Linked DNA regions of Homo sapiens. The protein of the gene in region 4 purifies or fractionates together with the protein of the main gene of each other region. This does not show direct contact. Each region holds a gene or a part of one and is shown on either strand. Other genes may lie near its edges. The genes, in order: ATP12A, KCNIP2, SLC39A11 and WBP1.

Evidence for each region.
Region 1: the proteins of WBP1 (region 4) and ATP12A purify together in Homo sapiens (affinity purification with mass spectrometry; 3 studies listed by BioGRID and IntAct, with this or other methods). This does not show direct contact.
Region 2: the proteins of WBP1 (region 4) and KCNIP2 purify together in Homo sapiens (affinity purification with mass spectrometry; 3 studies listed by BioGRID and IntAct, with this or other methods). This does not show direct contact.
Region 3: the proteins of WBP1 (region 4) and SLC39A11 purify together in Homo sapiens (affinity purification with mass spectrometry; 3 studies listed by BioGRID and IntAct, with this or other methods). This does not show direct contact.

The regions. Positions count from the first base shown.
Region 1 is NC_000013.11:24,697,408-24,704,429, reverse strand, and holds part of ATP12A (potassium-transporting ATPase alpha chain 2), read right to left. Parts: intron 5,773-7,022; coding exon 5,580-5,772; intron 3,684-5,579; coding exon 3,508-3,683; intron 2,496-3,507; coding exon 2,359-2,495; intron 1-2,358. UniProt on the Homo sapiens protein: The catalytic subunit of a H(+)/K(+) ATPase and/or Na(+)/K(+) ATPase pump which transports K(+) ions in exchange for Na(+) and/or H(+) ions across the apical membrane of epithelial cells.
Region 2 is NC_000010.11:101,833,781-101,840,802, forward strand, and holds part of KCNIP2 (A-type potassium channel modulatory protein KCNIP2), read right to left. Parts: intron 6,092-7,022; exon of another isoform or gene 6,061-6,091; coding exon of another isoform or gene 5,973-6,060; intron 644-5,972; exon of another isoform or gene 590-643; coding exon of another isoform or gene 487-589; intron 1-486. UniProt on the Homo sapiens protein: Regulatory subunit of Kv4/D (Shal)-type voltage-gated rapidly inactivating A-type potassium channels. Modulates channel density, inactivation kinetics and rate of recovery from inactivation in a calcium-dependent and isoform-specific manner.
Region 3 is NC_000017.11:72,844,668-72,851,689, forward strand, and holds part of SLC39A11 (zinc transporter ZIP11), read right to left. Parts: intron 5,138-7,022; coding exon 4,967-5,137; intron 1-4,966. UniProt on the Homo sapiens protein: Zinc importer that regulates cytosolic zinc concentrations either via zinc influx from the extracellular compartment or efflux from intracellular organelles such as Golgi apparatus. May transport copper ions as well.
Region 4 is NC_000002.12:74,453,587-74,461,399, reverse strand, and holds WBP1 (WW domain-binding protein 1), read right to left. Parts: upstream 2,963-7,813; 5' UTR 2,798-2,962; coding exon 2,729-2,797; intron 1,758-2,728; coding exon 1,655-1,757; intron 1,528-1,654; coding exon 1,351-1,527; intron 1,180-1,350; coding exon 719-1,179; 3' UTR 519-718; downstream 1-518. Other genes in the region: MOGS (mannosyl-oligosaccharide glucosidase), read left to right, coding at 1-125; INO80B (INO80 complex subunit B), read right to left, coding at 3,536-4,066, 5,128-5,297, 5,464-5,582, 5,802-5,994, 6,226-6,283.

The DNA.
Region 1 (7,022 bases), on a different chromosome or scaffold from region 4:
AAGATCCTTGAATGGAAGGCCAAACAAATCTTCCTAAGTAGGGAAGGAAGGGCAAATATAAAAAAGAAGCAATTGAGAAGATGCAGGAATAAGGTATCTTATATACAACTTTCATTAAAAATTGCTAAAATGGGCCAGGCGCAGTGGCTTACGCCTGTAATCTCTACACTCTGGGAAGCCAAGGCGAGCAGAACCCTTGCAGTCAGGAGTTAAAGACCAGCCTGGCCAACATCGTGAAACCCCGTCTCTACTAAAAGTACAAAAACTAGCCGGGTGTGGTGGCACATGCCTGTAACCCCAGCTACTCAGGAGGCTGAGGCAGGAGAATTGCTTGAACCCAGGAGGTGGAGGCTGCAATGAGATTTCACCACTGCACTCCACACTCCAGCCTAGGCAACAGAGAAAGACTCCATCTCAAAAAAAAAAAAATCTGCTAAAATTTTAAATTAAAGTCCCAGCTACTTGGGAGGCTGAGAGGGGAGGATCCCTTGAACCCAGGAGGTGGAGGCTGCAATGAGATTTCACCACTGCACTCCACACTCCAGCCTAGGCAACAGAGAAAGACTCCATCTCAAAAAAAAAAAAATCTGCTAAAATGAAGCTGGGTGCAGTGACACAAGCCTGTAGTCCCAGCTACTTGGGAGGCTGAGAGGGGAGGATCCCTTGAACCCAGGAGGTCGAGGCTGCAGTGAGCTATGATCACACCATTGCACTCCAGCCTGGGTGATCTGACAGGACACCTTGTATCTAAAAAAAGAAGACTCGGCTGGTCTGAAGGTAGTAGTGAATTAGCTCAACTGATTGTTCACAGTCAGTTACAGATCAAACTTCTACTCTTTCCCCTCTTCTCACTACTGCACTTGACTACTCTTAAAAAAATTTCTTTTAGTCCAGGTGTGGTGGCTCACGCCTGTAAGCCCAGCACTTTGGGAGGCTAAGGTGGGTGGATCACTTGAGGTCAGGAGTTTGAGACCAGCCTGGCCAACATGGCAAAGCCCCGTCTCTACTAAAAATACAAAATTAGCCAGGCATGGTGGCGGGCGCCTGTAATCCCAGCTATTCAGGAGGCTGAGGCAGGAGAATCGCTTGAACCCAGGAGGTGGAGATTGCAGTGAGCTGAGATCACACCACTGCATTACAGCGTGGGTGACAGAGAGAGACTCTGTCTAAATAAACAAACAAACAAACAAACAAAATTTGTTTAAAATTCTAAAGTGAAAAAAAGTATAATCCGATTATCTTACAAAACCAAACAAATAAACAAGCCCCAAAGTTGTTTTCATAGAGGGATGTTATGTATACTAAAGGGCACTGCAAGACTCTTAGACTTCAGGTACTGCTGCTGTGCCCAGAGGCGGGAACCCTGGTTGGTTGTCTAACGTGGTAATTTGTTATGACCTGACAGCTGTGTGTCCCTAAAAGACCTAAGTGCTTGGGGAAACTGAAGAGGTGCATTGGTCTTTCCCTCATCTCCCGCATGCGTGAAAACATAACCCAGCTAATGAACATTACTTCTCAACCTGAGAATTCGGAGTCTTTGACTCATGGAGACCAGGCACAGTCCAGGCCACTCTCCTGCATGCCCAGCTCCCTAGCCTTGTGTGGCTCCCTCATTACACTGGCCACATCATTGTTAGCTTTGTTTGTGTCTCCTTGGCTCGATGGAAAGATTCCCCAACGGTGTGGATAGTATTGTTCAGTTTGCTACTGTAGTTCCAGGTCTTGCCTGGTATATAGTTGGCACGCAGTAAATACTTGTTGAAAGAACAAATACATGAGTGAATGTACAGTTGGATGAACATGATTAAAAGAATAAGGATAAACATGATTAAAAGAATTAGGAGAAACAAGGAAAAAAACTTTCCTTAGGAAGCTTCCATTCTATCTATTACCAAATAAAAAAGAAGGGTGTGTTTACATAGCTACACGTTATGAAACCGGGTGGATAAATACCCAAGATGCTTACCAAGGAGGGTGCATGAAACAACCCACAGGGTTCTTACGATTCCAAATTATGCAACTGCATCTATGGCAAGTAATTTCACATAAACCCTTTGTTTCAGTTTTTCTTATTCTAAATTGGGCACATAGGTTTTGTGCCCAGGGCACACTGGATTTTGAAATTTCAAACAAGGAACACATAAAGGGTCATTTCATGGTATCAATACTGTGCCTGGCACATATTAGCTGCTCAGTGAAATTAGAGTGAATACATGGATATGCAAATAATAGCTCAAACAAGCCTAGCATAACTCTGAGAGCAAAAAGCTGATTTGTTCCAAGTAGTGCAGCTCTTTAGAGCCAGTGGGGCCCCATGGGTATAAACTGGAATTTTTACTATGCTGCTCCTGTGCTTACCGTTTGTTAACTTGCTCCACAGCAATGTTGAGGCGATGTGCAATGTCTTCCACTGTTTCACTGTTGGCTGAAATGATCCCCACACTCTTGGCAATAGCTTTGGCTGTGATGGGATGATCACCAGTAACCATAATAACCTAGAGCAAAGACAACGAGAAGGCCCACGGGTAATGAAGAACTCGGTTGGCCAAAGTGGGGATGGTTCAGTAATACCTACTCTGTAGTGCCCTGGGAGAACGTGGTTGGTGATTACAGTGGCAGCTCTGGATCTACGAGACAACTGTCTTTGGAGGAAACACTAATCCCATTGGGTCTACCCTTGCTCCTAAGCTTCATACGCTTCCTCCTCTGACATGAAAGGAAGCCCTTCCCCTTTGATGCCACTTTATTTGTGAAAGGGCTGGTGAGTGTCTACTTGGGGGTAGCCCCATGTTACTTCAACAGTCTTAATATTAACCTAGTAATGATGAACATGGATTATGGGGGCTGAGCCTCAAGACTGAGTAATAAAGCCTTTTTTCTTTCTTTTTTTCTTTTCTTTTCTTTCTTTCTTTTTTTTTTTTTTTTTTTGAGACAGAGTTTCACTCTTGTTGCCCAAGCTGGAGTGCAATGGTGTGATCTCGGCTCACTGCAACCTCTGCCTCCTGGATTCAAGAGATTCTCCTGCCTCAGCCTCCCGAGTAGCTGGGATTACAGGTGTGTGCCACCACATCTGGCTAATTTTTTTGTATTTTTAGTAGAAACGGGGTTTCACCATGTTGGCCATGGCTGGTCTGGAACTCCTGACCTCAGATGATCCGCCTGCCTCAGCTTCCCAAAGTGCTGGGATTTCAGGCATGAGCCACTGCGCCCAGCCAATAAAGCCTTTTAGTATCTACCATGGACTAGGGCGAGATATGGTCACTTCAAGGCACTAGGAGATTCTTCTCATTGCATTTACTGTTTATGTGGTTCATTCCACATAGACACAATCATTTTCTTTTTGTGGGACAGTTTCAGTAACCTTAGCACAGTGAAACTAGAAATAAAATAGGAATTATGATATTTACTTGAAGACACCTAAATACTGACCATCTGCTATGAAAACCATTATTAGAAAGGAACACGACATAAAGAAAGAACTTCTTGAGTCAGGAAAATAACTCCCACCTTGATCCCTGCACTCCGGCATTTGGTGACTGCATCTGGCACGGTGGACCGAGGGGGATCGATCATTGACAAGAGTCCCACAAAACAGAGGTTGGAGGTCGGAAAGTTCATAGCGTCTATGTCAAATGAGTAGGTTTCTGGAAACTCGTCTGCTGGCAGGTAGAGATGACAGAAACCTGTAATACAGATGAATTAGTGAGTCAGTGAAACTAGAATAGGAAACGAAAAAAAATAAGAGGAGAACATGCTCATACACCTTGGTCCTCTGCTGTTTTACCAATACATTAGAATAAGCCAGAATTGTTTAATTTCTTCAACTCCATAATGCATTTTTTTAGGAAAGACATATTTCATCCAAATATAATTCACTGTGAGCTCATTAGGCTCTGTGTTCTAGAAATATATCTTGCTATATTGCCAAGTTCTAGGGCAATACACAGTCTCGACTTCTGAAGTTTAGCGGGGCACAGAGTTAAAGGGATCAAGCATAGGGTACATCTCAGGGCAGAGACACATTTCAGCTGCCTGGAGGATTAGGAGAGACTTCCCCAAGGAGGTCACATGTGAGGTGAAGCTTGAGAGGGGCAAAGATGATTTCTAGGGAAAAAAGGGAGGGTGGAGGTGGGAAGGCCATTTTCAGCAGAGAAAACAGCATGTGAAGGAACAAGGGGGTTCAGCGGAGGGGCACAAAGTTCAGTGCTAGATCAAGATAAGCCCAAGAGAAAGGCCAGCAGGAATGGGGCCGAGCCATCCTTTTCTCAGAAGGCATCAGCCTCTCATAGGCTGAGGTGGAAGGGACTCTTGTGTCTGGTGGGACCTCCAAGATTGTGTGATCAGCTTTCACATCCAATTTATTTTCAGCCTGGCCCACTGCTTTGCAAATGTCAATGGAGCAGGCTTTGAGAAATCAAACGCAAGTGGGCATCGATCCCGTGTAGAATACCCGGTACTGTGGGTTATTGGATGCCTAAAGCATCACCATCTCATTTATATGCTTTATCTGATTTGCCAACTCCAATAGCCTTTAGAAACACACATTCCACAGACTGCATCTGTATTGGTGAGGACTTCCATGGTGTTTAATGAGCCGGATCGTCAACCATACACTTCTGTTTCCTTGAATTTGTCATTCTGTGGTCCTGATGGGGCACCATTCCGCCAGCCCTGGTGCTGACAACAGGACACACTGTCCCCTTTGACAACACCGCAGGCACCCCCATTGGGTCCTCCTCCTGTTGCATTTCTAAGGTTCCTTCCTTCCTGACACTTTGTCTGCATCACTGGCATCACTCTCTTCCTAGTCGTTAAATGGGAAGCTTAATCATTTTTAAACATTATCCTTCTCTGATAGGTTCTAAATCTTACCAAACTCTACCTCTATGAAGTCTCTTGCCCTGATCTCTCCTTCCCATTCCCATCACCCTGAAAAAATTCCCATCCCTTTTGCCTGAGCAAGGGCAGCTGCTTCCTATGGAGATGTGCATCTCTCCTCTCCCTGCTGCCGCCAAAGACATTTAAAGAAGTTAAAGAAATTTAACTCCTTCCATAAAGTCTTCCCCAGCCCTGCGACTGCCCAGCTCACTCTAGTGGCACAGCCCTCAGTGCTCTCTACTGACTGCAGGATGAAACCTGGCTCCTCACCCAGATGTTCAAGACCTCCATCTCATGACCTCCAGTCCAGCCCTTGAACCCTGTTTCTGTGACAGTGCCATCTCACCTGCTGGCAGCACCCAATGTGCCCCACGCCGTTCTGCCTCTGTGATTGGCCTGTGCTGTTCCCTGGGCCCTGGATACTTTCCCCTATCTCCCCTCAAATGCAGTCACTTAAGGCCCAGTTTGAAATTTAACTCCTTCCATAAAGTCTTCCCTGAGCTTGCCTCTCTGGAGGCCATCCCACCCTGCTTGGTGCTGTCACACAGCATCCTCTCCTTGTTCCCATCCTGCTTATCATGTTCTCCTTTACATGCTTCACGTGGATGCCATGGCCACTGGGCTAGGTCACAGGTCCTCAAGGCGCCTGCCTCATCTCTGTGCCCACCAGGTGATGGGCAGGGCCCTGCCGCCGCACTCACCCAGCACACGCTCGCCCAACCCGCCCAGCTCCATGTAGGCTGTGTGGAAGGTCTTGGCAGTGCTCTTGTCCAGTGGGTGCTCCTCGCCGTTGATCATGATGGTGCTGCATTTCTCTAGGATGCGCTCAGGGGCCCCCTTCATCACCATGAGGAAGCGCTTGCCGTGGGGGTCATCCATCTCGTGGATGGAGAGCTGGGAAGGAATGAACTGAGCGTGTTACTTACAGAAAGGTGAAACGCATTCCTTCTTCTCTACTGGTCCATTAAATGTAAAGGAGGAAGAGGCACAATGGCATCCTCAGCATGTTCCGCCCTTTTTCTTTCTGTGGCCAAGTAAGACGAAGAGCTCTAGACTTGGCCCCAGCCCAGAGTGGGGCACCCACTCTGGATAAGTGGAGCTCATCTTTCAAGCAAAACTGGCTGCTTTAGGCAGGCTAGTTGTGGCCGTCAGCGTGTGAAATCTTGTGCCTTGAACAAGATCTCCCAGGGTGCCCGTGAGAGTTAGGGGGCTGCGAGCCTCTGCATCTCACCTCCTCTACCTCCCTGTGGGGAGCAGCCGTCTTTCAGACCCAAACTATTCTGAGCTCAGGAGGGGAGGAGGCGACAGGAATTTCTGCACCTCCTCACCTCATTGTCCACCCAGTTTTCCTGCTTGGATGTCATAGAAAATGGCGGGGTGTGAGGAAGTGGACACTTCCACGTATAATGTTTCAGGAAGACAGCCGAGTCACAGGAGTCTCCATTTTAATAGGAATGCTCTTGACCCAGCAATTCTACTTCTAGATCCATCCTAATAAGATATGCAAAAAAAATCGATATACAAGAATAAAAGGACTAACTCTTATCTAGCCCTTCTGATAAGCCAGGTACTCTTCTAAGCACTCAAGAGGAATCTCAGGAAGCTGGAGTGTTTGGGAGAAAATAAGTTGCAAAGAAAAGTGCTACAATTTTGGGTAAAACAGTTCTTTACAAATCAGTATTTCTTAGACTTCTGGGTATCAAAGATGAGTACAAAAAGAAGTATAGGGCAAATAGGGTTACCAGCTGCTGCTGCTGCTTTTTTTAATGATCAAGTAAAGACATTGAGAAAACCAACCAACCAACAAAAACCAAACCAAACAGAAAACCTCCCAGCTCTATCACTTTCTAAAATATAGGCCTTTTCTTTTTCTTTCTCTCTTTCTCTCTTAAATTTTTTTTTTTTTTTTTTTGAGACGGGGTCCCACTCTGTGCCCCAGGCTGGAGTGCAGTGGCACGATCACAGCTCACTGCAGCCTCGACCTCCCAGGCTCAAGCAATCCTCCCACCTCAGCCTCCCAAGTAGCTGGGACTACAGGTATGTGCCACCATGCCCAGCTAATTTCGTTTTTTGTTTTTTTTGTAGAGATAAGGTCTTGGTATATTGCCCAGGCTGGTCTTGAACTCCTGGGCTCAAGCAATCTG
Region 2 (7,022 bases), on a different chromosome or scaffold from region 4:
CCCACACACCCCATAAGCTACACTGCACAGATGGAGGTGTGGAGAGGATGCACAGGCACCGTGGTGGGCCCCTGACTCCAAAAAGGACCCCCCAGAAATCCGTTGTTATCTCAGGATCCCTAGAACCTCCCTCCTCTACTCTAGACACTCCTTCCCTATCTCCAGACCCCTCCTGGTATCGCCCAGAATCCCCTCACCTCCTCATCTCCACACCCCAGTCCTCCCACACTGCACCCCTCATCACCTCCTGACACCTTGGTCCCCCAGATTCCCTCCTCCCTCCATATCTACTCCTTGAGGCCTCCTCTTCACCCCTCCCAGATGTTGTATCCCCCAAGCACCCCTACTCACCTCCCAGATCCCTGTGCCATCACTCACCTGCTCATCCCTGCCCCAGTCATGAAGACAGACAAACACCCTCCCTAGTGCTGTGGGGCAGCTGCCCCACCAGCCAGCAGCTCAGACATGCCAGGACACCTGGATTACCTTCCAAGGAGACAGGCTCAAAGAGGCCAAACTGCTCCAGGACCTTGACAAACAGAGCGAGGACCACGAGCACAGCAACCATCTCCAGCCCTTCCAGGTTCATGGTGGGCCTGGGGCATGGCCCCTACAGGGCCCAGGTTCAGATACGCCGGTTCACCGCCTCACACCACCTCCCCCTCAGACTCCCCAGCCTGAGTAGGACTGCCTGCAGCCTCCCTCCCACTCTCCCTCCCAGGATCTCCTTCCTCTCCCCCATCACCCCGCCTCTGCCCCACAAGCCTCCCAACCACAGCCGCCGCCTCTTCCTCTTCGCAGGGCCACCTCAGCCTTTGGACTGGCACCTCCTTGGGAACTTTTGGCCAAGATATGGGCCAGAGGGAGGGAGCAGTGACCCGCCTCTGTCCCTGAGAAGTGCTTCCCCTAGACATCCTGTGGCTACTCTGTGCCAAAGGGAAGGGGCAGAGGGAGGAGCTGAGCTTAGGGAGAAGGCAGGGAAGGGCAGGGTGTATGTGCATGAGAAACCACCATCTGCACATGTATAAGTAATCAGATGCATGGGTCAGAATATGTTGTGGTGGCCAGGTGTTTTCCTGTGTGTATATTCCTGTGTTTGTCAGTATGGCAGTGCATATGTCTCCTCTTATGTGTGTCTTTGTGTGCTTACACGTGACTGTGCACCTGTCACAGAGGTGTGTGTTTGGCGTATGGTTATGCATTTTGACTCTTGCGTATATGGGTATGTGAGCTGGGTGTCTATGGTCTGCATGTGTAGGAGTGTGTTGAAGTATTTGTGAGTGTGCATGGGGAGTGAGGTTCCTGTGTTTTAGTAGGGTTGTAGGATGTGGGTCTGAAGTTTGTTAGGTATGGATGTGTTGTATAATTTGGAGGGTGGGTCTACTGTTTTGTCATTGTATTGGCATGGAATTGTATGAGAATAATGGCGGAGAAGGCAGTGACCTCTCCTGCTAGGAGGATATCACCAATATCGATTTGGTTGCCATGGAGACTGTGAGGAGGGAAGCACTCTCTTCCCACAGGCCACAGGCAGTGAAACTGAGGCCCAAGGGAGGGGGGATAAGATACAGTAGTAGCCTAGGCAGAAAAAGGCCACTTAACCCCATCAGGACCCTCTGGGGAGGGGACTTACTGCAGCTGCCTTTGGGGTCAAGAAACCCAAGCTTCTTGGGAGAGGAGGGGGGACTGTGCTGGCTCCGTATGTGGCTGGGACCTCATCCGGGAGATGCTAAAGCCCTGCCTGCTCCTTAGGAACTGTTATTGAGCTGATGGAGAAGCCCAGCTGCTGTAGGAGGGAAATCTGAACCTTCTAAGGGAGCCACCCCTCCCAGCCAGCATCCCCGGAGTCCCTCCCTCCTCTTCCCTGCTTCTTCTTGGTGGGGTGTTTGTGTGTGTAAAGGGGTGGGGAGAGGCCTACAGAGCCAATGAGCCACAAGACTAGGGCCTCTGGGTTAGTAACACCATTACTACCGCTGCTGGCTAACGGTGACTGAGCATTCACTATGTACTAGATAATGCACTATGTGCTTACAGGTGTTGTAACACCGAATTTTCACAATAAGCCTATGAAGGCATACTATTATCCTCATATTACAGGTGGTGAAACTAAGTCAAAGAGAAGTTAAGCAAATCTTCAAGATCAGAGCTTCAATTTTAACCCAGTCTGACTCAGCCTTCACTCTAAACCACCACACTACACTGGCTCCCTTCTTAGAAAGCTGGCCCAGCCAGGAGGCCCAATTTAGGGGGATTGGCCCCAGAAGGAGCCCTCCCTCTTGTCCAGCTCTGGGATGACTGTGTCTCAGCCCAATTTGTGGGGTGGGGGCCAGTCCCTAAGGCCCCAGTCGAGGTTGGCTGATCTGCAGTTCTATACAGCCACCACCGGGGGGCACGCGTCCAACCTCACACAGTACCATACACCTTCCTTCTCCCCGACCTGCCCCATCCAGGGAAGAGGTGGGAAGATGACGCTTCACACAGGCTTTTTTTTCTCTTTTTTTTTTTTTTTTTTTTTGAGACAGAGTCTCGTTCTATCACCCAGGCTAAAGTGCGGTGGCGCTAGCGATTCTCGTGCCTCAGCCACCGAATAGCTGGGATTACAGGCGTGCACCACCACGCCCAGCTGATTTTTATATTTTTAAATAGGGTTTTGTCATGCTGGCCAGGCTGGTCTCGAACTCCTGGCCTGAAGTGATCTGCCCCCGTCGGCATCCCAAAGTGCTGGAATTCCAGGCGTGTGCCACCGCGTCTGGCCTCAAATAGGCTTGGTCTGTTCCACTCCTTTCCCCTAGGAAAAAGTCTATTTAGGGATTGCTTGCCAATCCCTAAAGGTTGGATCAGGAGTCCCAGACCAGCCTGGGCAACATGGCGAAACTCTGTCTCTACAAAAAATTAGCCTGGGCTGGGCAAGGTGGCTCATGCCTGTAATCCCAGCACTCTGGGAGGTCGAGGCAGGTGGATCACGAGGTCAGGAGTTTGAGACCAGCCTGGCCAAAATGGTGAAACCCTGTCTCTACTAAAAATACAAAAATTAGCCGGGCGTGGTGGCACACACCTGTAATCCCAGCTACTTGGGAGGCTGAGGCAGGAGAAGTGCTTGAACCCAGGAGGTGGAGGTTGCAGTGAGCCGAGATCACGCCACTGCACTCCAGCCTGAGCAACAGAGCGAGACTCTGTCTCAAAAAAAAAATAATAATAATTAGCCTGGCGTGGTGGCACACACCTATAGTCCCAGCTACCTGGGAGGCTAAGGTGGGGAGTTTGAGGCTGCAATGAGCCATGATTGTGCCACTGTACTTCAGCCTAGATGACAAAGTGAGACCCCATCTCAAAATAAACAAATAAACAAAGATAATATTTATCCAGCACATTTTGTGTCCTGGATACTTTACATGTAGTATCTCACTTAGTCCTCATAATAAACCTGAGAGGTAGGATCTATTATTCCTGTTTTTACAGCTGACATGGTCAGAGTGAGTGATAGTATACCCATTTTGCAGATGAAGGAATTGAAGCTCCCCGCCAAGATAAGCTCCCTGCTTATCTTGGGAAAAAAGAGTGATTTTTTTTCCAAGATAACAGCTGACATGCTAATTAAGAATGAGTTTGGCTGGGTGCAGTGGCTCACGCCTATAATCCCAGCACTTTGGGAGGCCGAGGCGGGTGGATCACAAGGTCAGGAGTTCAAGACCAGCCTGACTCACATGGTGAAACCCCGTCTCTACTAAAAATACAAAAATTAGCCAGGCGTGATGGTGCTTGCCTGTAATCCCAGCTACTCAGGAGGCTAAGGCAGAATTGCTTGAACCTGGGAGGCGGAGGTTGCAGTGAACTGAGATCACGCTACTTCACTCCAGTCTGACTGAAAGAGCAAAACTCTGTCTCAATAATAATAATAATGATAATAATAATGAGTTGTTTAACCAGAGTCAGTGATCTGTCAGCTCCCTCAGGCAGTCTCTCCAATATGTGCGGGGTGTCAAGGAATCCTAGGGCCTACAGCTTAGTTTAGGTAAGGGAGCTATGGGTAATAAAATCAAAAAGGGTCAAATTCCATGAAACCTTGAATGCCAAGCCAGACTATTTGAATGGAAAGGGGCCCCACAACAGCCCCTTCTTGCTCCCTGCTACTGATAACTTGCAGCCAGTTGCCCTGGACCTGGCCCTGGCCCTGGCCCCTCCTTTTCCTAACTCCCACTCTCAACTCTCAGAGACCTTGACCCAGCCTTGCCAGGACTCATGGTCCTAAATCAGCCAGGCATCCTGTGGCAGAGTCTGTCAGGAGTGAAAGGATGAGTTATTTTTCCAGGCTGTCCCTTCTCCCCACTCAGAGACTTCTCAAGTCCTCGGGTTCAGTGAGAAACTTGCCAGATCCATCCTCCCCAAGCATCCCTGTGCCACGAATTTAGCTCTTCACTCAAAGTAAAATCTCTGTGGAAGCAATTTGGCAGAGTGGGAACTCAAGGGAAAACCATCTCGAGGCATGAGGTGGGCCTTCCCCAGATCCCTCAAATCTTACCACAGAGATATTCCTATCATTTATTTATTTATCTCCCCCAGTTCAAATGTGAGTAACACTGCCTTGTGGGGGAACCCACTCTATGCAACTGTCCCACCTTCCCCAGTTTAGCTTTGTCCCACCCCCCACCGCCACTGTTAACCCAGCCAGTGAAGACCTCAAAGCCCTTCTCTCAGTCCCCCAGACCCACACCATTCCCAGCTAGGCCAAAGACACTGCAGCCCCCAGCTGCATCGAGTGATTAATGACCTCCCTAGACGTTGGGGCTATTTTGGGTCCTGGAAGTCATGCCTGCAATGACTGAGAGCTGGCCCTGCCTGGCTCCAGCCATCTGTCACTGGAGACAGGCCCAAGCAGGGGGCTTGGAGGTTGTATGCTCCCCAGAAGATTTCCAGGTATGGTTCTGGCTCAGGACCATCCATCTACCCTCCTTTTGGGGGACAGATGGCAAGGAGAGGCCACAGGCCCTATCTATACTCCAGGGGCTCAAGTGGATACCCATGGAGAGAGCCAGAAAATGACAGATCTCAGAATGCCACAGGACCAGGTTGTTTTGGTCTGTTTGAGGTCAGGTACAGAGGAGACGTTGCGTTCTATGGGCCCTGCCCAAGCAGTCATAAGGAAATGCAAGTGGAGATGTGCATACACCTCAGCAGTGCCGTGGGATACTCAACAATCCACACCTCATACACTCCACAAATTTCACACCAAGGTACAACCTCACGAAGGCTACACAACCAACTTAGAGGCTCAGGAACCCTCAACCCAGTCCTAAAGTACAGAACTCCAGGTACACACAGTCTCAGTGTCACAGAATCCCAGTGATCACAACCCCAGGGAGACACAGACTCAGCCATACATAGCCCAGTGATGCACAACTTAGTAATGCACAATCCCATTAATACACACTCCCAGAGAGAGAGAAAACAGAGACATACAATCCTTAAGCCACACAAGTCTATCAGTCCCATGTCATGTATGAACTTGCTAGCTGAGTTCATGTTGGTCTAGGCCCATCTCAGGGTTTTTTCCTTCTGGACACTGAACCCTTCATCTTAAGACCCCTTCAGCCAAGAAATGCAGGAAAGGACTGAACTTTTTCCCTGCTCTGCTGCAGGCCTCCTCCTTTCATCCCTGGGAGGCGCCCTGCCCCTCAGTTAAGGCCCCCTCCTCTGCCTTCGGTGAGAAGCCCCGCCCCCTCCACCATTGTGAGGGACCTTGATGCCCCTCTCCTTTCCTCTTTGAAGAGCGCTGTCTTCCTCCTGCTCAGTAAGGAGGCCCATCCCCTGCTCCGCTTCTGTCCAGGATCTCGTCTTGGAAGCCCTTTCCTTGGAGGGATGTTGCTCCCTCCATCTATTTGAGGGGCCCTTCCCTCCCTACCTCTGCGGAGCTCCTAACCCACTTCGCTCACTTTTTGAAGGATCCTGCCCCTCCCTTCCCTTCCTCATCATACCTGGGGACAGCGACCCAGTCACCAGCTGGTAGAGGGATCGCGCTGCCTGCCCCAGCGGGCTCCGGCACCTGCGGGGGCATCGGTTCATGGTTTGGCGGCGAGCTCGGCGTCTAAGCTCCACCCCCAGGCCCCGGGGCGGTCCGGTCTCCGCCCTCACCCGGGTAGGCCCGCGTGGGCGGCGCGGGAGGGCCGGCCCGGCAGGCATAGGATCGAAACCCTGGAGCCTTCCCATGTTCTCCTGGCCGCACGAGAGGAGCTCACCCTGGCCCCATCATGTGAAGCAGCCGCCCCCAAAGTTCCTGGACGGGGGGGGGGGGTGGCGGGGAGGGGCGGCGCGGACTCAGCCTTCTCAGGGAGCATTTTTCTGGGTTCTGGCGGGGAGGCCAGGCAGGCACATGTGGGTTTTGAGAAAAGAGCTGGATGGGGAATGAACCGTATCTTTTATTGCCCCCTTTCAGCCCCCCTTTCTCCGCCTGTCGCACTCCTCCCCGCACCCTGCACCCCGCCCCCACCATTTTGGCATAAAGAGCCGAAGGGGTAAGAGGACAGAGTTGTCATGGCAACTCCCCACACTTCCTGGGCCAATGGAAGAAAGCCAGGAGGAAGGAGAAAGAGGCCAGTGTATTGGGGTGGCAAAGAAGAGGCAGCAGAGTTGTGCCCCACTGCCTTCTGTCTCCTGGCTCCAAATTCCTTGCTCTCATAACTGTTTCTATTTGTGTTTGTCTCGGTGCGGCAGGTTCACAGACTACCACCATACGCTGGCTACAGCCGAATGCTTCGAGAAGAGCCCCCCCCGCACCCCCCCCCCACTTCGGTCCCGCTGCGCCCCTTTCCTGGACTCCGGACTCATCTCTATCAGGTTAGACCCCAAGTAAACACTTCCAGGACTCTCTAACGCCTTAAAATTCCTGGGAAAGCCTACGGGAGAGATATAGTCCCGCTCTTTCGACTGGGATCCCGCATGATTGGTTGAAAACCCTACATTTAAGTGGTGAGAATGACCTCCTAACTCTGGGCAAATCTTGTCCACTTGACGGCGACTATCCCCAC
Region 3 (7,022 bases), on a different chromosome or scaffold from region 4:
AAAAACAAAAAACAAAAAAACAAAAAACATTCATGGGCCAATGATTCAGAAATCTATAACTCTAGCTAGACTTTGCAAGCCAACTCCAAACTCATGTATCCAGCTGTCTAGTCAGTATCTCCATTTGAATGTCTAATGGCAATCAAACCTCACAATCAAAAAACAAATTCCTGATAGTCCCCCTAAAGCCCCTGGAGCTGCAGCCTTCCTCGTCTCAGTTGATGGCAATTCCATCCCTGCAGCTGGGCAGCCCTGAAACCTCCGGGTCCCTCCTGGCTCCTCGCTTTCTCTCATATCCCACATCCAATCCATCGGCAAATCCCATTGGCTCCACCTTCAATCGGGACCCAGGAAGGGATCCCTTCTCACCACATCCAGCACGACCACCTTGGTCTGCACCACTATCATCTTTGATCTGGATTCTGCAGTGGCCTCTACATAGGCCTCCCTGCTTCCATCCTTACCTCTCCTAAGTCCCATCTCAATTCAGTATCTAAAGAGAAACAAACTTTCAAAGCTCAAGTCAAGTCATACACACCCTCTTCAAAACTCTGCAATGGCTCATCACACACAGAGCAAAAACAAACATTCTTATGCCTCCAAGTTCCATCTAAAGGAGGGGCTGACATCCCTGCCCTCACCTTGTACTTCTCTCCCTGCTGCTCACCCTGCTGTGGCCACAGTGGACTCTTGGCTACTCCTTGTGGGGGCCAGACATGCTCCTGCCTCAGGGCCTTTGCACTGGCTGTTCCCTCTGCCTAAAACACTCACTGTTTCCCAGAGATCTGCATGACTGACTCAAATTCAAGGACATCTCAAGGAGCCCCTCCCTACCTACTCTATTTAAAATGGCAATTTCTTCCTCTAACACTCTACCGTCTCCTCTGCCCTGTTGAACTTTTTCTTTTTTTAAATCACTAACCACCTTCTAACACAATATAAAATTCATTTATTATGATGATGTTCATCGACTATCTCACCTTGCTATAATATTGGTTATAGAAGGCCAGAGATCTTGGTCTGTTTTAGTACTGATATAACCCAAGTACATGGAATACAATACTCAAATATAATAAATAAAAGACAAGACTGGGAAAGAAATGTCCCTTCAAACCTCTCCATCCAGTCAAGCCAGCTGTCCTCCAGTTTACTGAAACCAGTGACTATTACCACCATGCTTCTGGTGAAATCTAACTCAATTGAGATTCCTGGAAGGCACTCAATCCTCATTTCAATTTATTTTTTATTTTACTATTATTTTTGAGACGGAGTCTCGCTGTGTCACCCAGGATGGAGTGTGGAGATAAGAGAATCCATCTTTCAAACCAATGAATCTCTCTCTCTCTCTCTCTTTTTTTTTTTTTTTTTTTTTTTTTTTTTGAGACAGAGCCTTGCTTTGTCGCCCAGGCTGCAGTGCAGTAGCATGATCTTGGCTCACTGCAACCTCTGCCTCCTGGGTTCAAGTGATTCTCCTGCCTCAGCCTCCCAAGTAGCTGGGATTACAGGCATGTGCCACCACTCCCAGCTAATTTTTGTATTTTTAGTAGAGACGGGGTTTCGCCATGTTGGCCAGGCTGGTCTCAAACTCCTGACCTCAAGTGATCCGCCCACCTTGGCTTCCCAAAGTGCTGGGATTACAGGCATGAGCCACTGCACCTGGCCTCAATCCTTATTTGAAAAAATACTTTTGCATCACCATAGAAGTGACAAAGGCTGAACTTAGACTTGGAAACTCCAAAGACACAGAATAGGGTCTCCTGTCAGGGAAGAAGTAAGATTTTAATTTATGCTCATTTAAGATCATCAAATATTGCTGTCATTCCACACATCTTCCTCCTGTTTCTGGCTTTATTCCAAGTTGTCACTGGAGTCAACAAACATTTGAGAAAGTAAACTCTGAACCATCCTGGCCTTCCATTGGGATGAGCCAGGAAATAATTCCAGCTGAGCATAATGAATCACCCAAGTACAGTGGCAGGTGTGGTATATAAAAGGGTCCATTAGAGGAAAGTTGGATACTCATTCCATTGCTATAAAGTCTGGACCTTAGACCACATTTTTGTTCTTCAGAGAAATAGTTGCCGTAATACACCTCAGTGTAGTTACCTTATTTAACACTAAACCCACTGGGCAGATCTTTACTCTTCCTCAATTGGCTAAAGAAGGGGTCATAAATGGCAGAAAGACAGCTACTATTATGAATGAAAAACAAGTAACCTCTCTTCTCTAACTATTAGCACTTAACAGGCTACAAGTTGCTGTCAGGGCTCCTAAGTAGTCCTCTGCAGGGGACCAAGGGGTCTTTCAATGACCTCTTTAAGATACGGGGTGGGCACGAGCAGGGTCTTCCACCAAGGCTAACCCACTTTGGCCATCTTTGTGCAGTGAGGTCCATATAAGACCCCATCTTTATCTCAAGACATACTGAATACCAAGATCTAGAAAACCAACAGGGTCAGATGCTGTGGCTCATGCCCGTAATCCCAGCACTTTGAGAGGCTGAGGTGGGCTAATCACTTGAGGCCGGGAGTTTAAGACCAGCCTGGCCAACATGGTGAAACCCCGTCTCTTCGAAAAATACAAAAATTAGCTGGGCATGATGGCACACATCTTTAATCCCAGCTACTCGGGAGGCCGAGACAGGAGAATTGCTTGAACCGGGAAGTGGAGATTGAAGTGAGCTGAGACTGCACCACTGCACTCCAGCCTGGGCGACAGAGCGAGACTCTGTCTCATAAAAAAAAAAAAAAAAAAAATTGGAAAACCAACTAAAAAAAGCTTATTCATAACTCAAAGAAAAGGGTCAAGAGGGGAATGAGGGAGACACATAAACTGATGAAAATGTTGGGAAAACTGGCCTACCTATGATCGTATGATAGACATTCCTAAGATTAGGATAGAAATAACAGAGGAATGTGCTTCTTATCTAGAGAAATATCTGAGCTTAAAAAGTAATTAAACACATAGTGCTTTCGGCAGATTTAATATATACTAGAATATATAATATGTATTAGAATTTTCACACTTTAAAGACGACAAAAAAAAGTCTTCATTGTGCAAGCAAAACAATATCAAGTTATACAGAGGAACAGACTCACTTTGGCCATGCTTTTTGCTTCCACAATACTAAAGCCAGAAGACAAGGGATCAACATCTGCAGAAGCTTTGTAGAGAAAAATGTCATGACTAGAAAGCTTTGCCCAGCCAAGTTCTTGCTCCTGTATTAGAGTAACAGATTGGCACCATGAACTCTGCAAGGACTCAGAAAATGTATCACCCAAGGATGCTCCCTGGGGAAGATTATTGCTCAAACTCGAATTCCCAAACAACAAAAGGTGGGTCAGCATGTTTAAGATCTCAAGATCGAGGAAATCATGGCTGAAAAGGCAGCAGGAGTATCATCGATGCCAACAATGCGCTCGTAAGTCCCAAGCACTGTACTGAAAGCTGTATGTATATTTAGCATCTCATTTAATTCTCTAAGTAAGCCACTTGTGGCATTATCCCCATTTCTTAGATGAGAAAACCAAGGTTCAGGGAGTTCAAGCAATTCGTCAAGATAACCTCCTTAGGAAGTGAGAGAGTTGGAATTTCAAAATGCATCCCAAATTGCTCAGGTTCCCTCAGTTTATTTATTTTTAAAAATATCTTTATCATTTCCTATGCTTAATCATGTTTTCTAGTTGCTCTAAAAGAAACATTCATTGTTTTTGAAATAAGGCATTAATATGTCCTTTTTTCCAATTAAAATACATCTAAAGACATAAAACAGGCCAGCGTGGTAGCTCACGCCTGTAGTCCCAACACTTTGAGGGGCCGAGGCAGGTGGATGACCTGAGGTCAGGAGTTCAAGACCAGCCTGGCCAACATGGTGAAACCCCATCTCTACTAAAAATACAAAAAATTAGCAAGGCATGGTGGTGCACACCTGTAATCCCAGCTACTCAAGAGGCTGTGGCAGGAGAATCACTTGAACCCAGGAGGCAGAGGCTGCAGTAAGCCAAGATCGCTCCACTGCACTCCAGCCTGGGGGACAGAGCAAGACTCTGTCTTAAAAAAAAAAAAAGACATAAAAGAAATTACTCTAAAATGCTAAATAGGAAAGGATTGGTAAGAACATTTCAGAAAGATGCCCACATAAAGAAGGCAGGTAAGGCAATTATCAGTGCCAAATTATACTGAACTCAATAGACTTGACCCTCGAACAATGCAGACGTTAGGAATGCTGGTTCCCTGCGCAGTAGAAAATCTGCAGAGAGTTTTTGGCTTCCCCAAAACTTAACTATGAATAACCTGCTGTTGACCAGAAGTCTTACCAATAACATAGTCAATTAGTACATATAGTGTATGTTATATGTATTATAAACTGTATTCTTACAATATAGCAATCTCAAGAAAAAATGTTATTAAGGAATTCATAAGATAACATATATTTACTATTCATTAAGTGGAAGTGAGTCATCATAAAGGTCTCATCCTCATCCTCTTCACATTGAGTCAGCTGAGGAAGAGGAGGGGTTGGTCTTGCTCTCTCAGGGGGCAGAGGCGGAAGAAAATCTGAGTGTAAGTGAACTCACGTAGTTCAGATCTGTGTTGTTCAAGGGTCAACTATGTTTTCAAATAGCATTAAGCAGAACCAGAGATACCCAGTATTTATAAAAGATACCCTCCACAGCAATCATGTAACAGTTATGAATTTATGCTCCAAATAACTTGGTAACAAATATGTAAACAAAAAGGAAGTAGAAGTTGTTTAAACTAACCGGAATGGGAAGTTTTCACATATGATGATCTATCTATGACGATCAAAAAATAAAGCCAAGAAAGATTTGTACTGCCACCTTCACTCCTCTCCAAAAAGGACCCACGTCACAATTGCCCCTTCCCCTTTTCCAGCCAGACAACTGTGCTGACAAATGACTTTACCTTCAGGCAGTGGCTGTCACGCTCACGGGCAAGACCTCACCTGGAACGTTGTGTATAGTGATGGCCAAGATGAGCAGTGCGATCCTCCTCCAGCTGCTGCCGCCGGGCTGTGCCAGATTCCCTCGAGAAGGCACAGGGACAGCAGGACCCTCTGGAAGGCCAGTGGCTGCCGCCTTCTTTCTCTGATATGCCTCACCATTCTCACTCTTGTCTGAGCAAAAAAAAAAAAAAAGAGAGATGGGGAAAGACAGCGCTTTGAACATGTGCACGTTAACTCTCCAGCAAGCTACAGCAGGAAGAAGCTTCTTTTTCTTTTTTGAGACAGGGTCTTACTCTGTCACCCAGCCTGGAGGGCAATGGTGTGATCACAACTCACTGCAGCCCCAACTTCCCGGGCTCAAGCCATCCTCCCATCTCAGCCTCCCAAGTAGCTGGGACTGCCATCTTCACTCCTCTCCAAAAAGGACCCACGTCACAATTGCCCATTCCAAACTTCCTGTAGACTATGCATGCTTCTGTGTGTTCTCTCATTCACTCAGGCATCCATTCATTCAGCGAACAATTCATTGACTAGGCTGAGCATGGTCACTCACGCCTGAAATCCCAACACTTCGGGAGGCTGAGGCAGGCAGATGGCTTGAGCCCAGGAGTTCGAGACCAGCCTGGGCAACATGGCACAATCCCATCTCTACAAAAAATAAAAATAAAGAATTAGCTAGGCGTGGTGGTATGCACCTGCAGTCCCAGCTACTTGGGAGGCTGAGATGGGAGGATGGCTTGAGCCCGGGAAGTTGAGGCTGCAGTGAGTTGTGATCACACCATTGGCCTCCAGCCTGGGTGACAGAGTAAGACCCTGTCTCAAAAAAGAAAAAGAAAAAAAAAATCACTGAACAGGCATTCAGTGCCCAATGCATAGGTACCAAGAAGGATAAAAAAGATGAAGATGTGGTATCCTAGCAATGCCTGTTTAAGACAAGCAATGTTGAGTCATGATTAGAGACACAGATGCCAGAACCATGCTGCCTGCTTCCCTTCCTGACTCAGCCACTGGCCAGCTGTGTAGTGCCAAATAAGTTGTTTCACCTCTCTGTGCAGTGGTTTTCTGATTCGTAAAACTAGAATAATAGCATTACCTATGTCACAAGCGTTTTGTGAGGATTAAATGCAACAATGTCTGAAAGTACTTAGAATGTACTAAGTGCTGATTGTATTGATGGTTATTGTTAGTATCATGTTCCCTCTCCCATAGCCGTACAGAATTACATAATATGTGACCCTGCTCTCCTGGTCACACTGATTTATGGGAACCAATTCAGACGCCTGGCTCAGCCAATCAGAATCCCTCTCCAGGGAGAATTGGCCACTCCAACGTGCAAGCTAAATCTGAAAAATCACGTGATGCGCGAGCAGCTCTGCCACAATGGAACGAGGGAAGCGGCTGGACAGACAATCAGAAGGAATCAGATATACATCAACAAGCAGAGATGGGAAACCATGCAGCTAGACAGGAGAGAGAAGGGCAGAACTGCAGCCCACGTGCCACAGACATTCATGGGCCATCCGTAGCACCCAGCCCTTGGGTTTTCTGAGCAAACCTTCCTTTTAAAAATGCCTTTACAAATTGGCTTATATTGGAAGAATGTCATTCTTAGAACCTTATTCTAAATATCCATGGTCCCCTGGGCTATTTGTTTATTCATAATGGAGCCAAATTGTGTGGATTTGAAATTGGGAGGACAAGAGTGGGAGAGAGCATCCAGCTTTCAGTTCACAGCATGGGATGGATTTGTGGGGAAGGCTTTCTAGAGGAGATAGGTCTTGAGTGAATCTTAAACACGTGATGGCACAGACAGAATGAAGGGTCCCTTTATTGGGAGAGAAAACCCAGCAAGCATAACTCAGGTGTCTGTTAAATTAAATAAGCAAAAGGCCATTGGTCTGAGGCTGTACTTTGAGTTGCTTCGCAGTGAACTACAACCTAACTTAGTATGTATACAAATGAAAATCTCATTAGGAGTATATATTTTTTGTAATAGGATAGCTAGATCTCAGTCAATCACAAGCGGCTGAGCTTCAACCAATCACAGGCAGCCAAG
Region 4 (7,813 bases):
GCCAGTACCAGGCTACAGGCTTTCTTTGGGAGCAGTACAGTGACCGCGATGGGCGAGGCATGGGCTGCCGCCCTTTCCACGGCTGGACCAGCCTTGTCTTACTGGCCATGGCTGAAGACTACTGAAGGGAGGGAGAGGAGGGGAGCCAAGACACTCATGCCACTCTGGCTCTGAAGGGACAAAGGCTTCTGGCTTTTGCCCCCAGCCCCTTGGATACCAGTAATTCAAACCTTCCTCATTTCATCTCAGGTGTCTCCTTGCTGTCATCCCACATAGCCCTGGGGTGAATGTGAATCCAGAGTCTATTTTTCTAAATAAATTGGAAAAAACATTTTGAACTCTATTGCTTTTGCCAGATTTGCCTCACCAAGAGGCCTTAGGTCAGTCCAGGCCTCAGCACTGTCTGCTGTCCTCAGGGAAGGTGGGGTCAAGTGGCCATAACCTGTCCCCTTCAAACCCAGTCAGGTCAAGTGCAATGCAGTGAGTTGAGCTTTAGTCCACCCAAATCCACAAGTAGCTGGTTCACATCTCTTTAATGAGATCAAAGGCTCCTGTGTATGTCCTGCGGGGGTAAAGCTAGCACAGTCCCCCAATACTGCCCCTCTCCAGCCCTTTCAGGCAGATTCTAGGTAGGCAGGGAGGGGCCAAAGGAACGCAAGGAGTTGGGACTAGGGCTGTTTCTGGTGGGCAAGTAACCCATCCACCCTCTCAAAACTACTTATGGGATGTCCCCTTCACTGGAAGACAGCCCCATGGGAAAGATCTGCGGTACAGACTCTGGGGGTAGTGCACACGGGGAGTAGTCCTCCAGATCTGGCAGGGTGGCACTAACCCTCACCTCCTTGACTGGCTCACCCTCACCGGAGGCAGGACAAGGGCAGAGCTCAATACCGGAGTCGCCAGTTAAACGGCGATAGCGGCAGGAGGGGGGTGTGGAGGCAGGGGTCACCCCTGCCCCGGGCTCACCCTCCTGATGAGGGGGGGCACTCTGGTGGGAGGAAACACCTTCCACATTTGTTCCTTCAAAGTGGGCAGGGCAGCTGGATGAGGAGGAACAGCAGGTTTGTTCACTGGAAGCAGTCAAGGGGCGGCCTGGGGCCACAGTATAAGGGGGGGGTGGTGTGCCTGGGCGGTGAACCACATCCTCGTAGGCTGGGGGCTTGAAGGTGCTGAGGAAGCCTGCAGGGGAGAAAATTGGCATGATTGGTTGAAGACAACCAGGTATAGGGTGCTAGTTTTTATATTAGGGAAAAATACTTTGAAATGTGTGGAAAAGGGAATGTGAGACGATTTGGGGTTCTGGTTTGGGGAGGGCCACTGGTAGCTGACCCAGGGCATCAAGTCACTCACGAAGGTCAAGCAGTGAACCGGTAGGGAAAGGACCAGCCCCATGGCATGCCCCATGATAGGCCAACAAGTTGATTTCACGCTGCCGCTGCTGTTGTTGCAGCCTGAGTTTAGCTCGTCGGTGGCGGAAGGCGCAACAGCAGCTAAAGAGGATGAGGACAGTCCAGAGCAGCCAGAACCCTGCAAGAGGCAAGGAGGGAGCAACTCAGGCATCTTTCATGCAGAGAAGGGGCCCTGAAGGCCGAAATTCTGAGGTCCAAGGGAGGGTGGACACAGGGACCTGGAAATAGCCCTCTTGGAGACTTACACCAGAGCTCATAGTAGTAGGTGCAGCAGCCAGTCTCCCCGCAGCAGTGACCACTCTCACAGAGGTAGGGCTGGTTGTTCACTCCTGGGCACAGCTCTCGAAGCTGCGGGCAAGGAGGCACTTAGAACTAAGGGGGATTCCAGCCCAGGGCACTGTCCACCCCCACCTCCTGCATGCACATACACAATCCCACCCTGTGAACCAAGTTCAGCTTGGAGAGATGGGGGAAGTGGAGGATGCTGAGAGGAGTGTTGAAATATCTGAAGGGCTGTCAACGTGGAAGAGGATTTGGAATAGCAAGAATCAGTCTAGAGAACAAGACAAAAGTGTGGACATACAAAGAGGGAGATTTCAGCTCTGCATATATGAGACTTCCTTCACACTCAAGCCTCACTCTCCCCAACCCCCCTACCCCCATCCCCTCGGTGCTTTCTGTTAAGGGAGTGTTTTGGCAGAAGCCAGAAGACAGTCTGAGATAATCTCAGTCTCAGACAACGGGTAGCGGTAGGTCATTTCCAAAGCAAGTTGCTTTCATTATCCTGCGCGGTTCACTACCCCCCACCCGCAACTGGATCTTTCCACCCCTGGGCCTCAGGCTCCCTAGGATAGAGGAGGGGCAGTGTGAGACCCAGAGCAGTGCTCCCAACCAGATGGGATTGCTGTGGATGATAAAGGATGGCATCCAGGGCGCGAGTCTGGGTTCCAGCTCTTCTCCAAATTGCTCCCTCAAGAGAAGACGCTGCCGGACTCTGTTGTGACAATAGGCACATAGAAAAAGATCACAAATAACTGTTGCAAGACAGAGGGAGCCTCCCTGGGACCTCACTATGCCTCTGGTCACTGGAGAGCCACCGCAAGCTTCCACTGCAGCCATGGGATGGGTTCTATGAGGCTACAGGCAAAGTCAGCTGCATCTACGTTACAAAGTTTAGACAAAGAGTGGAAGAGACATGTTTAGGAACTTCACAGTACCTTTGGCTCCGTGAGTTCCTCCCCCACCCCCAAAAGGAAGGGACAAGGAAAGGGGAAAGAGACAAATGGCTGTCGTGATAGGTTTTGGAGCTATTGGGATACCTGCTGTTGCGGCGCCCGAAGTGCCCCCCAGGCCTCCTCGCTGCCGTTCCCGCTGCTGGCCCGAGCCATACCTCCACCTACAGCCCCCTGAGGACCACAGCCTCCTCTACCGCCAGCCGCCCCGCCCCTGCCACCTCTGCTGCCACCGCCATGGTCCCTGCCCGGCCCATCTTCGCTGAGGCCACCATCACTCCGCGGCCGGAGCTTCCATCCGGGCAGAACTCCACCAACTAGGACTCAGATTGCTCTGCCCTACCAATCATCATCGTCCCTTGACGGACGGGCCAATAGGAACAGATCAGAGGTTTCTCCCTGTGACCAATCCACAGCAGCGCCTCCGCCGCTCACCCAGACAACAAGAGCTTGTACAGACAAAGAGTAGGTGAAGGTTCGACCCACGGCCCTGACTGACAGCGGCAATAGCCAATACAGACAACAGAACAGGCTCTGGCATATCAACCAACGAACAGCCGCCCCGAAGAGCAAGGTTGCCGCTGATTGGCTTGCGGTATGTTTTCGGAATGACGCCAAAGGCCGAAGCACGCCAGGTAATCCCGGCTGGAAGAGGCGGAGTCCCAAAAGTCGGTCCGCTGGTTTGCAGCCTGGTTTTTTGCGGTGGTTTCCAAGCCCCAGGCATCGACGCAAGCTCCGACAGGGGCAAAATACGTGTATACCGGAGACTGGTCTGCCCACAACATCCCACTCCCCCAGTTCTGTACAAGCCGAAGCACCGGATGTAATTTAATAGGGTGGGGAAGATACTCAAGAGCGGGCATGGGACGGGGCGCAGAGTCCGGGTTAAGGGCCTTACGTAGCCAAAAGGGGGGATCCAGGACCCTCGGGCCCCCCCAGCCGCATCTGCAGGTTGATGCGGTAGCACTGAAGACTACAGAGTGCCTGGCCTGTGCGGGAGCAAGCGTAGCGGCGCGGATGGGGACAGCCGGGGACAGAGCAGCGCGGCGGCGGGCCTGAGGGGGATGGCCGCTGAGACACTGCCGTGGGGGCGGGGACGCCAGGTGGGAAGGAAAGGGTGGAACCCTGTGCTCCGCTGCAGTAGCGCACCATGGGGGCCGGAGCCGCAGCCCGCCCTCCCCGCCGCTCGCCCCGTGCGCCCCCCCGGCCTCCCCGCCCACTGGTCGCCGCAGTCTTGGTGAGGCGCTCGATAGTCTGGTTCTTGTGCTCTTCTGCCCGCCGCGCCGCCTGGAGCCGCCGCTTCCGCGCCCGCTCCTCGCGCTTCAGCAGCATCTCCTCTGTGAGGGCGGGAGGTGGGCAGCCCTCAGCTACAGGCAGCGGCAGCATAGGGGAAGGTTGACTCCGCGCCTTCTGGAGCAGAGCTCGCTAGGGAGAGACAGAGACGGGGTGCTGTCTGAAAATGGAGGAAGATGGAGAGGCGAGGTCGGCCAGATCGGGGGAGGGGAAAGAAGGGACATGGAAGGCAGGGTCTTGAGCAGTGCAGGCCTTCGGAGGCGGGATATTAATTAATGAGCACCCTCTCCAGGACACCTTCCATAGGTTCCTCTTCATAAATACTGCCTCCTCCCAGATCTCCTGACATTTAGCTTTAGGTCCTTATCTCTCAAGGGGAGAAGCATCAGTAATGTTACCTGCCTGACCTGTGCACCAAAACTGTACCAGCTTTCCCAGAGGTCTGTTGTTATTTTTAATCTTATCTCAATAGAGAGTATCAGGTGGATAACTGCTCAAGCCAAAATCCCAGGCTTAGCCTTGATATATTTTCTCTCCATTCCCCTCCCCACAAGTATCTACTTCCAAAATATAGCCATAATTCATCTGATTTTCTCCATCTCCACCACTTTCGTCTTGGTTAAAGCAACCACTGCCTCTCAGCTGATTACTTCAACAGCTTCCTAGTTGTTCTCCATACTTCTATCTCTTGTCTCCACGAAGATTCATTCTCTACAAAGATGCCAAAGTAATCTATTGAAATGTAAACCAAGTATGTCACTTCTCTGCGTACAGCCCTTCAGTGGCTTGTCCACTTTTTCTTCTCCTTTGCTAGACATGTTCCAGTCTCAAGGTCTGTGCGCCTGCTGGTCTCTGCTCAAAAGCTCTTCTGGTATTGCAAATGTTATCTCTTCAAAGAAGCCTTCTCTAACTACCCTAATGTCTCTCTTCCATCATTTCTATCTGTTTGTTTACGCCACTTTCTATTTCATCACCCTTTTCTTTTTGTCATAAACCATATAGCTTTTTGAAATTATTTACTTATTTACTTCCCAGCCCCCCAACACACACACTAGAATACTAGCTCCAGGAGAACAGAAACTTTGTCTTTTCTCTACTATCGATATCCCCAATGCCACGCAAAGTGCGTGGGTCGTGGAGAGTTCTCAATACTGTATACATTTGGTGAGTGAATAAACAATGAACCAACATACCTGTCGAGCAGTAAGCAGCCGCTCATTGATCTCCTTCTTGAGGTCTCCATTGTCATCCAGCTCCCCCTTCTCCAGGGCATCCAGCCACCTCTGTTCCTCCTCTTCCTCCTGACCCCCTAACCCTCCTGATAGGTCCCGAAGTGGAGAGGGAGAGAGATTACTGTCTTCATCTGGGAAGGAAGTTGGAGAAAGAAAAACAGAATTGTTCAGATGGGGCACCCTAATTTGGCTGAGTTAATACTGGGACATGGAAAATCCTAACCCATTTCAGAACCAACCTTCTTTCTTTAGGCGGGTATAATAAGAAACCCAGTTTCCCCACCTCCAGATCCTCACCCAGCCAGGCACGGTACTGCTCAAGGGGGACTCCTTCCATAGGTTCCTCTTCATTATCCACAACCATAAGGGGAGAGGGTGAGCGAGGCCCCTCTGGGATCACAGTGAAGGTAGGAACACTGCAGAGAAGCAACACTACTCTTTAAAATGAGCAAGCGTCTCCTCCTCCTACTCCGTAGCTACACCCAACTTTCCCCACCCTCTTAGACTCTTGCTGCCTAAATCTGGACCCTGAAGTCACAGTGTCCATTCGGTCTTCTAGAAAGCCCAGTCGGCTTCTAACTACTATCTCTGCTCCTAAAGTTCCCCTTATAAAACTATGACCCTCTTGGCCTCACCTCTTGGTCCCCAGGACTTGTCCCCCAAGCTTGATTTTGAGTTTGAGCTGAGGCTTGGCAGGGGACGGCTGCGTGGGCCCGGCGTCTTCTTCCTGATGGTGTTTCTTCTTGTGTTTCTTCTTGTGCTTCTTGTGTTTTTTCTTGTGCACTCCATGGCCATGGGCACCCGCCAGGCTCAACTCCAGGGCTTCTCCTGTGGAAGGAAAGCCTGTCGACAGTGTTTGGCCGGAGGGTGGCAGGGGAAGCCCTGAATAACCTAAGCCCCTACTGGATCCCACCCTTCCCGCAGTACTCGCTGTTACCATAACAACAGCACCGCCTTTCTCCTTGCCACCTGTGGCCGAAGTACCCTGGACTCTCCGAGGAGCAAGAACGGGACTTCTTTTCTAACACGACCTAAATTGCTTGATCTATTCGCGCTTACCCGGCTCAGGGGCCTCCATAGCCCCAGAGGTGCTCCCACGCCGCCACAGCTTACTCATGAGGTCCTGCGAGGAAAGGGGACTAGAAATGGTTGGGACACACGCAGACACGCCTTTTCCGCCCCGCGGAAAAACTGGAGCCAGCAAAACAACCAGTTACTTCCGGTTCATGGCAACCATCCTTGTGCGGGGCACGCTTCGCGTCCAAAATCGTCCCTGAGAAACGAGGATCCTTCCAACGAACGTTCCGGTCCCTCTGAGGTCGGGACAGCCCAAATGGGCAGGGCTTTCCCCTGGCTCCGCCTCCCCACGCTAGCTTTCAGAACTCAGCGCGGATGAGTCAATTATTGAACACAAGTTTGGTGAATGTATACACTAGACCAAGTGCGGGAAGCTAGTCTAAGAGGATGCAAAGATGAATATGAACACCGCCCCTGTCCTTGAGGAACTCACAGTTGGGTGGAGGAATACATAAACTATATTGATGACAAAATGGCCGAAATGGTTAAACAGCACGAGTGCCCTAAGAGCAGATGCAGTTTAGGTATTTAAACTTCAATTTTCATAAGTAGGGAAATGAATAAATGAATTACGGTGCAGCTGTACAATGCGGAACACCATATTGCTAAGAAAAGTTGAGTTGTAAGTAATTAATGAGATTGACACAGAATTTAAACAATCTAAGTGTCCTGATGAATTGGTGTATCCATACAGTGGGATGTTAAGCAGCTTGGAAAAGAAATGAGGCGCCCCAGAAGGCTATCTAGGAAATTGGTAAGAGTCATTTGCTGATGAGCATCTAGAGAACAAGGGTGGATGGCGACCTATTTTTTTATGATTATACCCTCTTGTGCCTTTTGAATTTTGTATAAAACGTGTATATTTTACCTCATTTTAAAAAAGACATAAAAACAGGTAGGTTTGTATGTGCTGATACACGAAATAAGAAAAGTAAATTTCCCATCCTGGCTAATACGATGAAACCCCGTCTCTACTAAAAATACAAAAAAAAAAAAAAAAATTAGCCGGCGTGATGGCACGCGCCTGTAGTCCCAGCTACTCGGGAGGCTGAGGCAGGAGAATCGCTTGAACCCGGGAGGTGGAGGTCGCAGTGAGCCGAGATCGCGCCACTGCACTCCAGCCTGGTCGACAGAGCGGGACTCCGTCTCAAAAAAAAGAAAAAAAAAAAAAAGTAAATTTCAAGATTATGTGATCTGATTTTTAAAAGCATAATATACTAGCAAATACATAGAAAAAATTGAGGAATGTATACCTGTTAATGTTGGTTAACTGTAGAAGTTGGGGTTGAGGAACTTTCACTATTTAGGTATGTAATGTATTTTCTTACAGCCAATATATATCACGTTTATAATTAGAAAATAACACCTATATACATATATCTAAATATATATGAGTGTCTGAGCAAGGTAACAGCAGTGAAAAGTCTCTTACATTTCAGTGATAAAATTATCAAGAATCAATGAGCAATTATATTGGGGAATCCAGGATTAAGTCATGTAGTATGTGATTATGAAAAGGGATTTTGGAGTCAGACAAGCCTATTATCAAATCCCAGTTTCACCATTTATT